3 separate regions of the Homo sapiens genome follow, and regions 1 and 2 are each linked to region 3. The links come from fine-mapping of genetic effects on gene expression. A gene starts in region 3. Each other region holds a variant in brackets. All regions are shown on one strand. Distances are from middle to middle. Region 1 overlaps NIPBL (NIPBL cohesin loading factor). Region 2 overlaps NIPBL (NIPBL cohesin loading factor). Region 3 holds the start of SLC1A3-AS1 (SLC1A3 antisense RNA 1).

Region 1 (4,248 bases), 330 kb after region 3:
CCTATAAGGTTAAATTCATATATCTCAGATATATGAAAAGTTTTGACATATGTCTAAATAGAGAATTTTTACTACCATGATATCTCGTAATTTTTTTTTTTATTTCCAGTGTGTGCCATATTTAATTGCTATGGGCACAGACCCAGAACCTGCTATGCGGAACAAGGCTGATCAGCAACTTGTGGAAATAGACAAAAAATATGCTGGATTCATTCATGTATGTATTTTAACATTTTATAACCTAAATTTAAACATTTTTCTTGAGTAAAGCATTTCTTTGATAAATGCTCTGCCCACATTCATAATTGGAATAAAATGTCTTACTTAGTACCTATCTTCTAAACATGCAACTAAGTTAGTCTTCCAAGGTGTTTATTCTAGTCTAAAGTTAAGGTTGGGCTAGAGGTGACAGTACCAAGCACACCAGACTAAAAATCAGGAAACCTGGATTTTATATCTTACTATGTGAACTTGGCTGCAGTGACTCTCCTGGGCCTCATTTTTTTTTTCTTCTTTGAAATGAGGGAATTGTAAGAGATAATCTCTAATGTTCCTTCTAGCACTTCATTCTGTGATTCGTATTATTTTAATTAAAAAAAAACAATGAAGCTAGCCTCAGAATGTAATGCTCTAAGTATATTTTTAATTTGTGTCTTTTAATTTCCCTGACAAAAATGAGACTTTTATTGATTTCAGATGAAAGCAGTGGCTGGTATGAAGATGTCTTACCAGGTACAACAGGCAATCAACACATGCCTAAAAGATCCTGTAAGGGGTTTCAGACAAGACGAGTCCTCTAGCGCTTTGTGTTCACACCTTTACTCCATGATCCGTGGAAACCGCCAACACAGACGAGCCTTTCTTATTTCTTTACTCAACCTCTTTGATGACACAGCAGTAAGCACAAAAACTTATTATTTTAAGAAAATAAGTGCTCTAGAAATTTTATGGATAAAGTAGTCATTTTTTAAATATTACCATTTTATTAGTATATGATAGTAACTTCATTAAGTGTTTTCTTAATCTTCTAAGTTATTTACAAAGTACACAGTCAGAAGTGAAGGGGAAATTTTGTATGAGAATAAGTGTAATGAGGAATAATGTATAATTTTGCCTCCATACTGAATATCCTATAAACTTTGATAACAGTTTCTGTAAGCGTATCTTTAAATAAGCAACATCACTAAACTAATCGCTTTGGGAACCGATTACCTCAAATATTGTTAGAGAATAACTGTTCTAGGTTTTTGGCTATTGAGATCCCTAGTTGTTCAACTTGATTTCCCTTAATGAAGGGAAGTCACTTTTCTGTATAGTAGTCCACTTTTGTGTATAGTAGTCCTCCCTTATCATTAAAGATACATTTCATGACCCCCAGTGGATGCATGAAACCATGGATAGTACTAATTATTATATATACAGTCATGCATCACTTAATGACAGGGATACATTTGGAGAAATGCATAGTTAGGCGATTTCTTTGTGGGGTGAACATCTTACTTACACAAACCTAGATGTTGTAGCCTACCTAGGCTATATTGTTCCTGGGCTACAAACCTGTACAGCATGTTACTGTACTGAATACTGTAGATAACTATAACACAATGGTAAGTATTCATGTACCTAAACATATCTAAACATAGAAAAGGTACAGTAAAAATATGATAGGATAATCTTATGGGACCATCATCATATATATAGTTTGTAATTGACTGAAACATGTTATGTGGCACATGACTGTACTGGTTTTTCCAATACATACAAACCTATGTTAAAGTTTTAATTTATAAATTAGTCACAGTAAGAGATTAACATAATAATAAAATAGAACAATTAAAACAATATACTGTAATAAAAGTTATGTGAATGGGATCTTGCTTTTCTCTCTCTCTCAAAATACCCTGTTGTAGTTTACTCACCTATTTTTGGACTATGGTTGACCAAGGGTAACTGAAACTATGGAAAGCAAAACAGCAATTGGGGAGATTACCATAATTACAATTTTGACACTTCTGGCTGTTGCACTAGTTGCATTGGCCAGGACCATAGGCCAAGAAAACTGAATATTCTTTAAAGTTTACCTTTTAATTTATTTATTTCACACAGTATTTATTCTGCATCTGCTATGTACCAGCCATTGCGCTAAGAAGTTTAACGAGCATAAAATAGTAAAAACAGATATGGTTTCTGCCCACACAGAGCACGCATGAACCTATGTGTATAGCAACTTTTAAAAGAACAAAAGAGGCCAGGAGTGGTGACTCA[C/T]GCCTGTAATCCCAGCGCTTTGGGAGGCCAAGGCAGGTGGATCACAAGGTCAGGAGTTCGAGACCAGCCTGACCAACATGGTGAAACCCCATCTCTACTAAAAATATAAAAATTAGCCGGGCGTGGTGGCACGCGCCTGTAATCCCAGCTACTCAGGAGGCTGAGGCAGGAGAATTGCTTGAACCCAGGAGGCAGAGGTTGCAGTGAGCTGAGATCACGCCACTGCATTCCAGCCTGGCCGACAGAGCGAGACTCCGTCTCAAAAAAAAAAAAAAAAAAAGAACAAAAGAAATACTTTAATTACTTGTTAGCCTGACAGCAGATTTTTGCAATAAAGCAAAATTATAATTACCATAGTGCAGATATCTTACTAGACCTCTTCAAGTACTACATGAAATTTATCATCAACATTATCATCATATCATTATCAGTATTAAGTTTGCATTGTGTATAGGACACTATACGAGGAGTGCCAGATGATATAATGTAGTGCTTTTGCCCTGAAAGGATTTTCCCTCCAGCTGTGGGGATAGGATACAAAATTAATAGTGATTACGGTTAGTATATCCTGAGTGCCCTGATGGTTTGTGTTGATAATATTGTTCCAGTCCTTGTTTCTGTCCAAAAGAACTTCATTTCTATGTGATTTCACTGCCTGCTTTATGTCATTGACTAGATGTTTTGTCATCTCAGCATTTGAAATGCTAAACTGGAAACCCAGCTCTCACAATGCAATGCTTTCTTCTGACTACCTCCAACAAAGAATGTCAGAGAAGGAACAAATGCCTGAAGGCCCAGAGGGATAGAATGAGAGGGATCTGCTATATAAACCAGGGAAGGAAGATGTTCCAGTCAGGGCCAAAAAATTAATTAAAAATACAAAGATAAGAATGTGTGGGAAATAATGAATAGTTTGTTATTTGACTGGGGCAGAAAGGTCATAATGAGGAATAATATATAGAGGATCCTGTAGATGGCAAAAAAAAAAACATTGTAAGTGTGTGAATAAAATAATGAGGACAATTGCCAAAGAGCAGTTTAGGAAGATGAATTTTTTTAGCATTGTGGTCACACTGGAGGTAATAATAAATTACTATGATAACAGTAGGGGAGAAAAAGAATGGATAGTAGAGGCTGGGTGTGGTGCCTCATGCCTGTAACCCCAGCATTTGGGGAGGCCGAGGCAGATGGATCACCTGAGGTCAGGAGTTCGAGAACAGCCTGGCCAACATGGCAAAATCCTCTCTCTCCTGAAAATACAAAAAAATTAGCCAGGCATGATGGCGCGCACCTGTAGTCCCAGCTACTTGGGAGGCTGAGGCATGAGAATCACTTGAACCTGGGCAGCAGAGATTGGCAGTGAGCTGAGATCGCACCACTGCACTCCAGCTGAGCGACAGAGCGAGACTCCATCTCAACAGTAAAAAAAAAAAAAAAAAAGAATGGATAGTAGAAAAGAAAAGAAAGTTGAGGAAAGAATTAAATGAGACTGTGTGAAAAGAATAGTTAGTGGACAACTGGAATATTTTTATCTTGAGCACCTGAAACAATAATAGGATTGTTGCCAAAGTCAGATTGCAAAGGAGTTGGCTTGAGGAGTACATAAAAAGGGAGTAGTCAAAGAGGTAGGAAGAGAAAACTTAGGAAGAAGATTTCATGAAGGAAAGTGTGGGTAATAGTCAGATGCTACTGAGAAGTCAAGGAGAGTAAGAAGTGAAAAATAGAGTAGAATGGTGAACTTCGTGGACAAAAACAGTCAAGCAGTGAGGGACAAAAGCAGATTGTAATTGAAAAGGGAGGGCCAGGTGAGATGACTCATGCTTGTAATCCCAGCACCCAAGGCAGATGATAGCTTGAGCCCAGGAGTTCCATACCAGCCTGGGCAACATAGTGAGACCCTATCTCTACAAAAATTAAAAAATAAAAACTGGACAGGCCTGGTGGTATGCACCTATACTCCTAGCTACCTAGCTACTGAAGAGA
Region 2 (4,248 bases), 200 kb after region 3:
CCAGGCTGGTCTTGAACTCCTGACCTCAGGCGATCTGCCCGCCTCAGCCTCCCAAAGTGTTGAGATTACAGGCATGAGCGACAGCACCTGGCCCCTTCAATGTTTTTCTTAAAAATATGTTACCAGTTTCTATCACTGCCCATTTTCCACCTCCTTATTTTTTGTATAATGACCTTGAATTTTGACCCATTTCTTAAAAATTGGATTTTTATCATAATTTTTATACTCTTACCCTAAACCTATTAGTTTGATTTTTCAATAAGAAAAATCATGCTATTCATAGTATAGGTGAAATCTCATCTGAGGTTACCCACTTGAGTAGTATATTCATAGAAAAAGTATTTTGAGTCCTTAAGAGCCATGAAGAAAACAAAACTGAGGGGTCAGTTTTCTTTTGGCCATTGTCGAGTATTATACTTTTAACTTAGTATGAAATGTAGGAAATGTCCAGCATACTGGATACTTATTTCTCTGGAATCACTCTGGCTGTCTAATGGTGGTATTTGGTATTACTGCAGAAAGCACAGGTTTTGTTTTAGAAAGTCCTGGATTTGACTATCTTACTCATTTTATGAAGTTGTGCAGTGATGAACTCTGAGGTTCATGTACTTATATTACTTATAAAACATTTAAATTGTTAGGGTTGTTATGCCTAAACTTGATGATTTTATGTACCATCGCAATTTTGTTGAGAAGATAAATGCCAAAAAGCAAACCCTTGGAAAATTAGTTTACCTTTCTTTACCTTACCTTTGATAAAGGGAATGTTAAAGGGTAACTGATTTGAACTACAGATTTCTTTTCTACCACCTTTAAGGTCCTTTCCAGTATTATCTCTGTAAACAAAGTTAAAGAAAAATACATTTGAAAGAAAAGATTTGTTGTAACTAAACCAATTAAAGCTGGCTTCTAGGCCAGGGCTGGTGGCTCACACCTGTAATCCCAGAACTTTGGGAGGCCGAGGCGGGCGGATCACGAGGTCAAGAGATCAAAACCATCCTGGCCAACATACAAAATTACAAAATTTTTGTAATTTTGTACTAAAAATACAAAATACAAAAATTAGCTGGGTGTGGTGGCGTGCACCTGTAGTCCCAGCTACTTGGGAGGCTGAGGCAGGAGAATCGCTTGAACCCAGGAGGTGGAGGTTGCAGTGAGCCGAGATCACACCACTGCACTCCAGCGTAGATGACAGAGCGAGACTCCATCTCAAAACAAAAAACAAAAACAAACAACAACAAAAAAATGCTGACTTCTCAGGGCCAATGATGTTATTCTCTGAGATATATATATATTTTTTCCTTTCATGGATAAGTTGAGGACATTATCTTGATATCTCTTGATCTGATAACTAGAGTAATCTTTGAATATTGTTGTTAGTTATTATTAAAAACACTTATTAAGGTCCTTTATGGAAAGTGACCAGTTTCCTGCTTTTATATACATTCTTCTTTCTGTGGCCTGAAACATTATGTGGTCTTTGGTTATTTACTTTACAATTTAGTTATTCTGATAAATACTCTTACTTTAAAAATTTTATATCCAGAAGAATCTTTTTCTGCAGTCACAGAAGTAGTCTTGGTTGACCTGTTTTGGCTTTCTGTGTAATGTCTGTATTAGATACCAACTGATTGATATAAATGAGACTCTAAGGGGATAATAATAAGTGTTAAGGCCCAATCAACACCCTGAGGCTGTGAAAATGTTCACTACTATTTGTAGAAAGTTCATATATAATATGATATAAAAATTGCAAATTGAGTCCTGGCAATATCTAGTCTTATAAATGGATAGAGCAAGATGCACTTTTGAGTGAATGAATTCCTGTTTTAAAGTGGTTAAGGATTATATTTGCAAGTTCCAAGTTATCTGTATTCTACTAATTGTCCTATAGATGACATTGTTATAATTTGTTCACTCACATTGTTGCTTTCCACTAAGATCTGTTATTATTATCTTTAGGATTTTCTTATTTGTTAACATGATTGCTTAAGTGATTAATCAAACTAAATCAGATAACATAGAACTCAATGAATATAGCTCTTAACTTTGGATAACAGCTATTTTCCTCTTGAACTAATATCCAAATTTTTGATCTTTAAATGTTACAACTGCAGTAAGCATGGAATATTATTGAAATAAATTTAAATATAACTGTTTAATAAATTATTAATTATGGATGATTAATAAAATGTTTAGTGTGTTA[CTGAA/C]TGTTTCTTGAGAAAATTTTATATCAGTTTAAATAGTTTTGTAGCTTGTCAGCATTACAGAATTTTTTATTTTTTTATTGTGTCATTAAGTGTAGTGGTTAAGAACATAGGCCTGGAGTAAGATTTGAATTCATATTCTGATTGTGGTCTTTATTAGCTGTGTGAACTTAGGCAAATTACTGTAACCTCTTTGAAAAGGCTTCCATTTCTATAATAGTTTGCCAGCTGGTTTGGTCAGGAACACTGTATTGTCTTGTGTATAGGTGTATCCACAATGTCTGGTACCTTGTAGGTACTCACTAAATTTTTAATGAAATGAATGATAACTGCTTTGGATGATTGCCATGAAAATTAAATGATGATATGAATGTAAAGCAGCTAGTAATGTACATAGCTGACACTAACTGCTGTTATTATCAACAGTGACAGAAAATCTCCAGTCTAGCTAATACAAGAAATAGATTTTTCCTCAGACTCTCATCTCACATTCCCTTTTAAGATTTCCTTGTCCTATCCCCACCCCAGACGTTTCCATTTTGCTTTTATTTTCTATAATAATTCCTGGGGGCCTCTATTAAAGGCCTTTTTCTTTGACTACTTACATCCATTATACCAGTATCTTTGTCAGTAAAATTTTATATATCTTTTATTCTGTCATCAGGTTAAGAAACAATAATTGTATTTTTAAAGGAAAATATTTTACGATGCTACTAAGCAGTTACTTTGTCCACTTATGCAGGTATTTCATAAGTATGAAGTAGGGAGGTCAATATCTGTCTGACAGGAATCTGCTGAAGATTAATGTTATCTAGCAGAATGCTTGGCATATAGAAGGTACTCAAATAAGTGATGCTATCTATTAATAGCATTGATAGTAATACTTTAAAACACTCTTTTCTAGTATATCATATCTCCAAATTTAATATTTATTGTCTTTTACACTTATTTTACATACATTAATTCATTACTTTTTTTTTTTTTGAGATGGATTTTCACTCTTGTTGCCCAGGCTGGTGTGCAATGGCGTGATCTCGGCGCACTGCAACCTCCGCCTCCTGGGTTCAAGTGATTCTCCTGCTTTTGCCTCCTGAGTAGCTGGGATTACAGGCATGTACCACCACACCGGCTAATTTTGTATTTTAGTAGAGACGGGGTTTCACCATGTTTGCCAGGTTGGTCTCGAACTCCCGACCTCAGGTGATCCATCCACCTCGGCCTCCCAAAGTTCTGGTATTAAAGGCATGAGCCACCGCGCCCAGCCAGTTCATTAATTTTTAAAATAACTCTGAGGTAGGCACTATTATCCTCACTTTATATTTGAGGAAACCCTCAAAGAGACTAAGTAAATAACTTAAAGTCTTTCAACTAGTACGTGGCAGAATTATAATTAAAAACCTGTTTTTGCCACTATTGCATATTGTTAGAAGGCTGTTTCTTCTTGAGGCTGAGCTAAGAGAACATATATCCATCCTACGTAACTTACAGTTCCCATTGTCTGTTCATTTGCCTATATTCTACTCACATTTCCTGCTTTCCATTCTTACTTATTTCTGTCCAACTAGACCAAGAACATAATATTCTATACCCTGTCTCCCAAACTTCTAAGTCATGGATTTGTTTTAACCTCCTGCTATGCTCATTTAGCTAGGTATCATTTATGAATATTTTCTTCTCATTTTCGTACCCATTCTCAAGTCTAATTCATTGATGACTCAGTCACGTCAGTAGTTTCTCCATTACCATGGCAATACCTTCCTGAATATGAGAATAAACATATATCCTGACTTAATTCCTTTGGCTCACTCTGTGAATTCTTTACCACTTTTGAACACTGTAAATGTACCTTTGAGAACTTCTTTGTTGCCAGTTTGATTTAAAAACAAAACAAAAAAATGTTACTGACTGTTCCAGTTATCTGTTGCTGTGTAACAAACTACTCCCCATACTTAGTGTGGTTTTAAAATAACAGCCATTTTCCTATGTCTCACGATTTTGTGGGTCAGGAATTTAGGCAGGGCTTGGCTTTGTTCATGTGGTG
Region 3 (4,248 bases):
AGGCAGAAGGGAAGATTCGAGCTGATTATAATCTAATGAGGCTGCCAAATCAGTTTCACTTTCCAATACCACATAAGGACTGGTGAGTCTCATGGGCCCTGAGCCAGGATTATTTTAACTGGTAGCATTAGCTGGGTCAGACCGATCAGCCTCTATGGGGAATACTTTGGGAACTGTCATCTTCCAAGCCAGCGCAAGAACAGCCTCTGCCACTGAACTGATGGTGATACACACGGTATTTGGAGGGCAAATCTGATTCACATGCAGTAGCAGGAGATGGAAGAGTGGTTAAAATGAAAGGGAGAGGAGAAGAAGAGCAAGGGACGAGCATAATACAGGGAAAGAAGAATAATACAGGTAGAATAGGAATTACATAGAAGGGAGAAGATCATTTTTTAAAAAAAATAAGGGCCAGGCATGGCAGCCTATAATGGTAGGCAGCACTTTGGGAGGCCATGGCTGGAGGACAGCTTGAGGTCAGGAGTTTGAAATCAGCCTGGGCAACATAGCAAGACCCCCATCTTGACAAAAAATACAAAAGTTAGCCAGATGTGGTGGAACACACCTGTAGTCTCAGCTACTCAGGAGGCCGAGGCAGGAGGATCACTTGAGTCCAAGGGTTTGAGGCTGCAGTGAGCTATGATCATGCCACTGCACTCCAACCTGGGTGACAGAGACCTTGTCTCTAAAAAGTAAAGAAATGAAATAGAAAATAAAAACGAATGGTAGAAATAAAAGGAACTGAGTAGTAGGGGGCAGAGGCATGTCTAGGGGAGAGAACTAGAACTGCCAAGGGATTTGAGTGCCTGATGGATTCTGAAGACTGAAATATACATGACCCCAAAAAGCAATGTCATTTGTAAATATTTGTTAATGAGTTTAGTGAAGTGCTACATGGAGGAATGATCTAGCCAATGAGAACAATGTGCACCAGCCAGTTGGATTCTTGAAGCTGCAGAGACTTCATCTTCAGCCACAGCAGGTGGCTGAGGGCTAGAGTTACTTGGGACTTTCCCCAATGCTCTAGTTCCTTCTATCTCTTGGAAACAAGTCTGGCTCAATATGTTCAGCAGCCCCATTGATGTTGCCCAGAGGAAGTGTGGATCAGGGCTCGCTGACCCCAAGGTTAGCAGCAGAAGAGCAGGGCCTCTGCCTCCCCAGCCAGGAAGCCCACAGTCTTGGCCACATGAATGAAGGAGGTCTTGGCAGCATCTGACACACCTCGGGGTAATGATTTAGCCACCCCAAATTACCGTGTCTCCACAAAATAGTCACTTGGGGCCACACTACATTGTGGAGAGATAATGAAAGAGCTTCTATTTTTGAGCTATCTTTTCCTCATATGCGAATAATTTCACACACAAAAAAATGAGAAAACCACTTCTCTCTGTCACCTACAGAATCAGGAACAGGGATCAGATTATCTTTTAGATACCCGCCCCAAAAAGAAATAAAAATCAAGAAAACATGGGTAAATACCATGGTGGACATTTAAATGAAGCTGAGAAAGAAAGCTTTCTCTATTTAGAGAAGAATTCAAAATGGATGGCAGGAGATTTGTTGAAAATAAGGAAGAGGGAGGGAAAGGTTAGTAAATAATAGGTCAAATCTTCAGCCTAGAGGGCACTACTAAGTTTTCTTTTGTTCCCCCTTAGGTTTCCTGGTGTAGCAGTGCAGTTGCAACGTAGTTTTGTTTTTTGGGTTTCTTTAAACCTAGAGTGGTAAGAGGGACTTGGTGGCGATGGACTGCCATGGGTCGGTTCCTTAGAGGGCTCTTGAGTTTTTCCCACCTGTCTCCAACTCCAGGGCCACCACTCTAATAAAGCCACTGCCATCTCTGACCAGCTCCCCTGCTGTGGCTTTCACTCTTGCTCTCTTTACAGCCCATTCCACACAGCAGCAGCCAGCATGGCACTTCCCGTTCTGGGCCCCTCCCACTGACTGCACCCTGTGCTTGTCCTTCATAGTGTGTAAAGATCTGTATGTGGGGTGATTTGACTAACGGTTCTCTCCCCTTAAGTATAAGTAAACCTATGAGGGCAAGGACTGCTTACCTTAGCATCCTTGGTTCCTGGTAGGATGCCCATCCCATAACAGGCTGGAGCTCCTGGGTGTGTGGGAGGGAGTAGGAAGGAAGCAACAGCTGCCAATCAAAGGCCCATTTGGGCATGTGACCCTTAGCTAGCCAATCAGAATCCTTTCCAGGGTTGTAGCAGTTGAAGCTGTGAGCAGCTCAGTTGGTTGGGTTGTCTGTCTTGTCTTGGCTTGGATTCTCCCAGAAGGAGATCCTGAGTCAATGATTCGGGTGCAAGTAGATTTCTTCTGGGAGCCTTTCTTTAATAAAGCACTTGCACCTGAGTCATTGACTCAGGATCTATTTCAGGATCTCCTTCTTGAGGGAGAGGGCGAAACAGGATCCAGAAGAAGCAAAGCAATGGAGCAGGCATGGCATCAGGAAGAGGACAGGGAGGCTGCCGTAAGCCCAGCAGGCTCCCTTTCAGGCTGTTAAGGAGGGGGATGAGTACGAACATGAAGGTGGCCCAAGTAGCTCTAAGGTCCCTTCTCTCATCTCCTGTCCTTACCGGGGGCCGTAGGCTCTAGATAAAACGCTGCCCCACCACCCGCCAGGGCTTTTGTTTTGGCTCACCTTTCATCCGCCTTCTCAGACTCTGTCTGCCTTGGCTTCCCTCAGCTGAACCCAGGGAATTTGCATTTTGCTATTTTCCATCTGCACTGGGTAGCCTGGCTCCAGATGTTTGGGGCAGCAAATGCAGAAATTCCAGGCAAACGGATCTGATCATTCTCTGCTTGGCTCCACTCGCTGCATCCCAAGCACCAGATGCCTCACTGGTGTCTGCCTACCTTCCTGGGAGGCAGATCCACCGCTCATAAGATAGAGCCCAACGACAAGACCCTGTACTTATGGAGGCCTTTTATTTAACAACTCATTTCATTGAAGGAAAAATCTAGAATCTACTAAGACCTCCTGATATTTTTTAATTAACTAGAAATTGTGGATGTATCCCTCAATATTTTCATCTAAAGTGGTTGAAATGATAATGGAGGGGAAACTGTGTTTTAAAAGCGTGTTACTCCATTTCTTTCATTCACCTCCATCAATGATAATATGAGTTATCACTCTTAATATTAACCACGTGGCAGGCTTCATGCATTCTCACATACATTTCACCCTAAGGCCTGGAGAAGATAATTTCACCAAAGTCACACAGGTAGTACATGGAAAGGTGTAAATTTGAACCTGGATCTTACTGCAAACCCATACTCTTAACTGCTTCATTCAACTTTTGCCAGCAATCATTTGTCATAGACTAAATGCCAGAACCTAAGCCCAAGATTTTGCAGTATACAGAGGAGAAACTGGATGTCTTTTGAAATGCTTCAGAATGGTTTCTATAGTACATATCTGAGCAGCACTCCATGACCAAAGGATGCCAAATCCTTTGCCCCTTGTATTACACTTCATTCATTAGTTCATTCATTCATTCAACAAATGCTTATAAAGCACTCCTGTAAGGCATTATTCTAGGCACTGAGTGTTTGTTATTGAACAAAAAGGACAAAAAATACCTCACTATTCTCAGAGTTTACATTCAGGGATGCAAGAAGGAGCGTGAAACAGGAGATAGGCAATAAACATTAAAAAATTAAGAAAATTTTGTAATATGTTAAGAGGTGATCACTATGGAGAGAAAAAGCAAAGTAAGTGAAATCAGAAGTGCAATTTAAATTAGGGTGGTCAAGTCAGGACTCCCTACGAAGTTGACTTTTGAGCAGAGTGCAGGAGGTGAGGGAGTGAGGCATGTGGCTATCTTGAGGAAGAGTGGTCCAAGCAGAGAGAACAGCCAGTGCAAAGGCCCTGAGGCCCATCCAAGGAACAGTGATAAGACTGGTGTGGCTAGAAGTGAGGGTAATAAGAGACAATGACACAGAAGTAACAGTAGCCAAAAGGCCAGAAATAAGAGGCACTATTTTTATGTCTTGGTCTCTTGAAGGATCAGTAATGTGGTGGTTTCCCCAACACCTGCTAAGCCCTCAAGGTCTTTATATATGCACCATTTTCAGGATTCCAAATGAAAAGAACAGTATGGTCCCGATGGTACCAACGGAGTAGCTTCAGCTGCTCATAGAGCTATTCCTATCCCATTCACCCCACTCCAACACCCACACTCCTCAATTCAGTCTTTCAAGAAGCTGGGGTGACCAGAAACCAGAAGAGGCAAAATTTCC

The links. PIP is the estimated chance that this variant, and not a neighbour inherited with it, causes the effect.
Region 1: its variant is the best candidate, but not a certain one, in a credible set for the expression of SLC1A3-AS1 in whole blood (INTERVAL, PIP 0.84).
Region 2: its variant is the best candidate, but not a certain one, in a credible set for the expression of SLC1A3-AS1 in whole blood (INTERVAL, PIP 0.56).

What each region holds. Positions count from the first base shown.
Region 1 is chr5:37,051,670-37,055,917 of GRCh38, forward strand. It overlaps NIPBL (NIPBL cohesin loading factor), which reads left to right. Exons shown (of 47, transcript NM_133433.4): 41 at 110-217; 42 at 697-897. Among named protein-coding and RNA genes, the nearest start is that of NIPBL, 180 kb to the left of the region's middle. The variant C/T (reference allele first, on the strand shown) is at 2,266.
Region 2 is chr5:36,922,095-36,926,342 of GRCh38, forward strand. All of the region lies in intron 1 of NIPBL (NIPBL cohesin loading factor), which reads left to right. Among named protein-coding and RNA genes, the nearest start is that of NIPBL, 47 kb to the left of the region's middle. The variant CTGAA/C (reference allele first, on the strand shown) is at 2,207.
Region 3 is chr5:36,723,060-36,727,307 of GRCh38, forward strand. SLC1A3-AS1 (SLC1A3 antisense RNA 1) reads right to left here and starts at 2,129. Exons shown (of 2, transcript XR_007058736.1): 1 at 2,055-2,129. RefSeq lists enhancers at 707-756, 767-816, 857-1,126.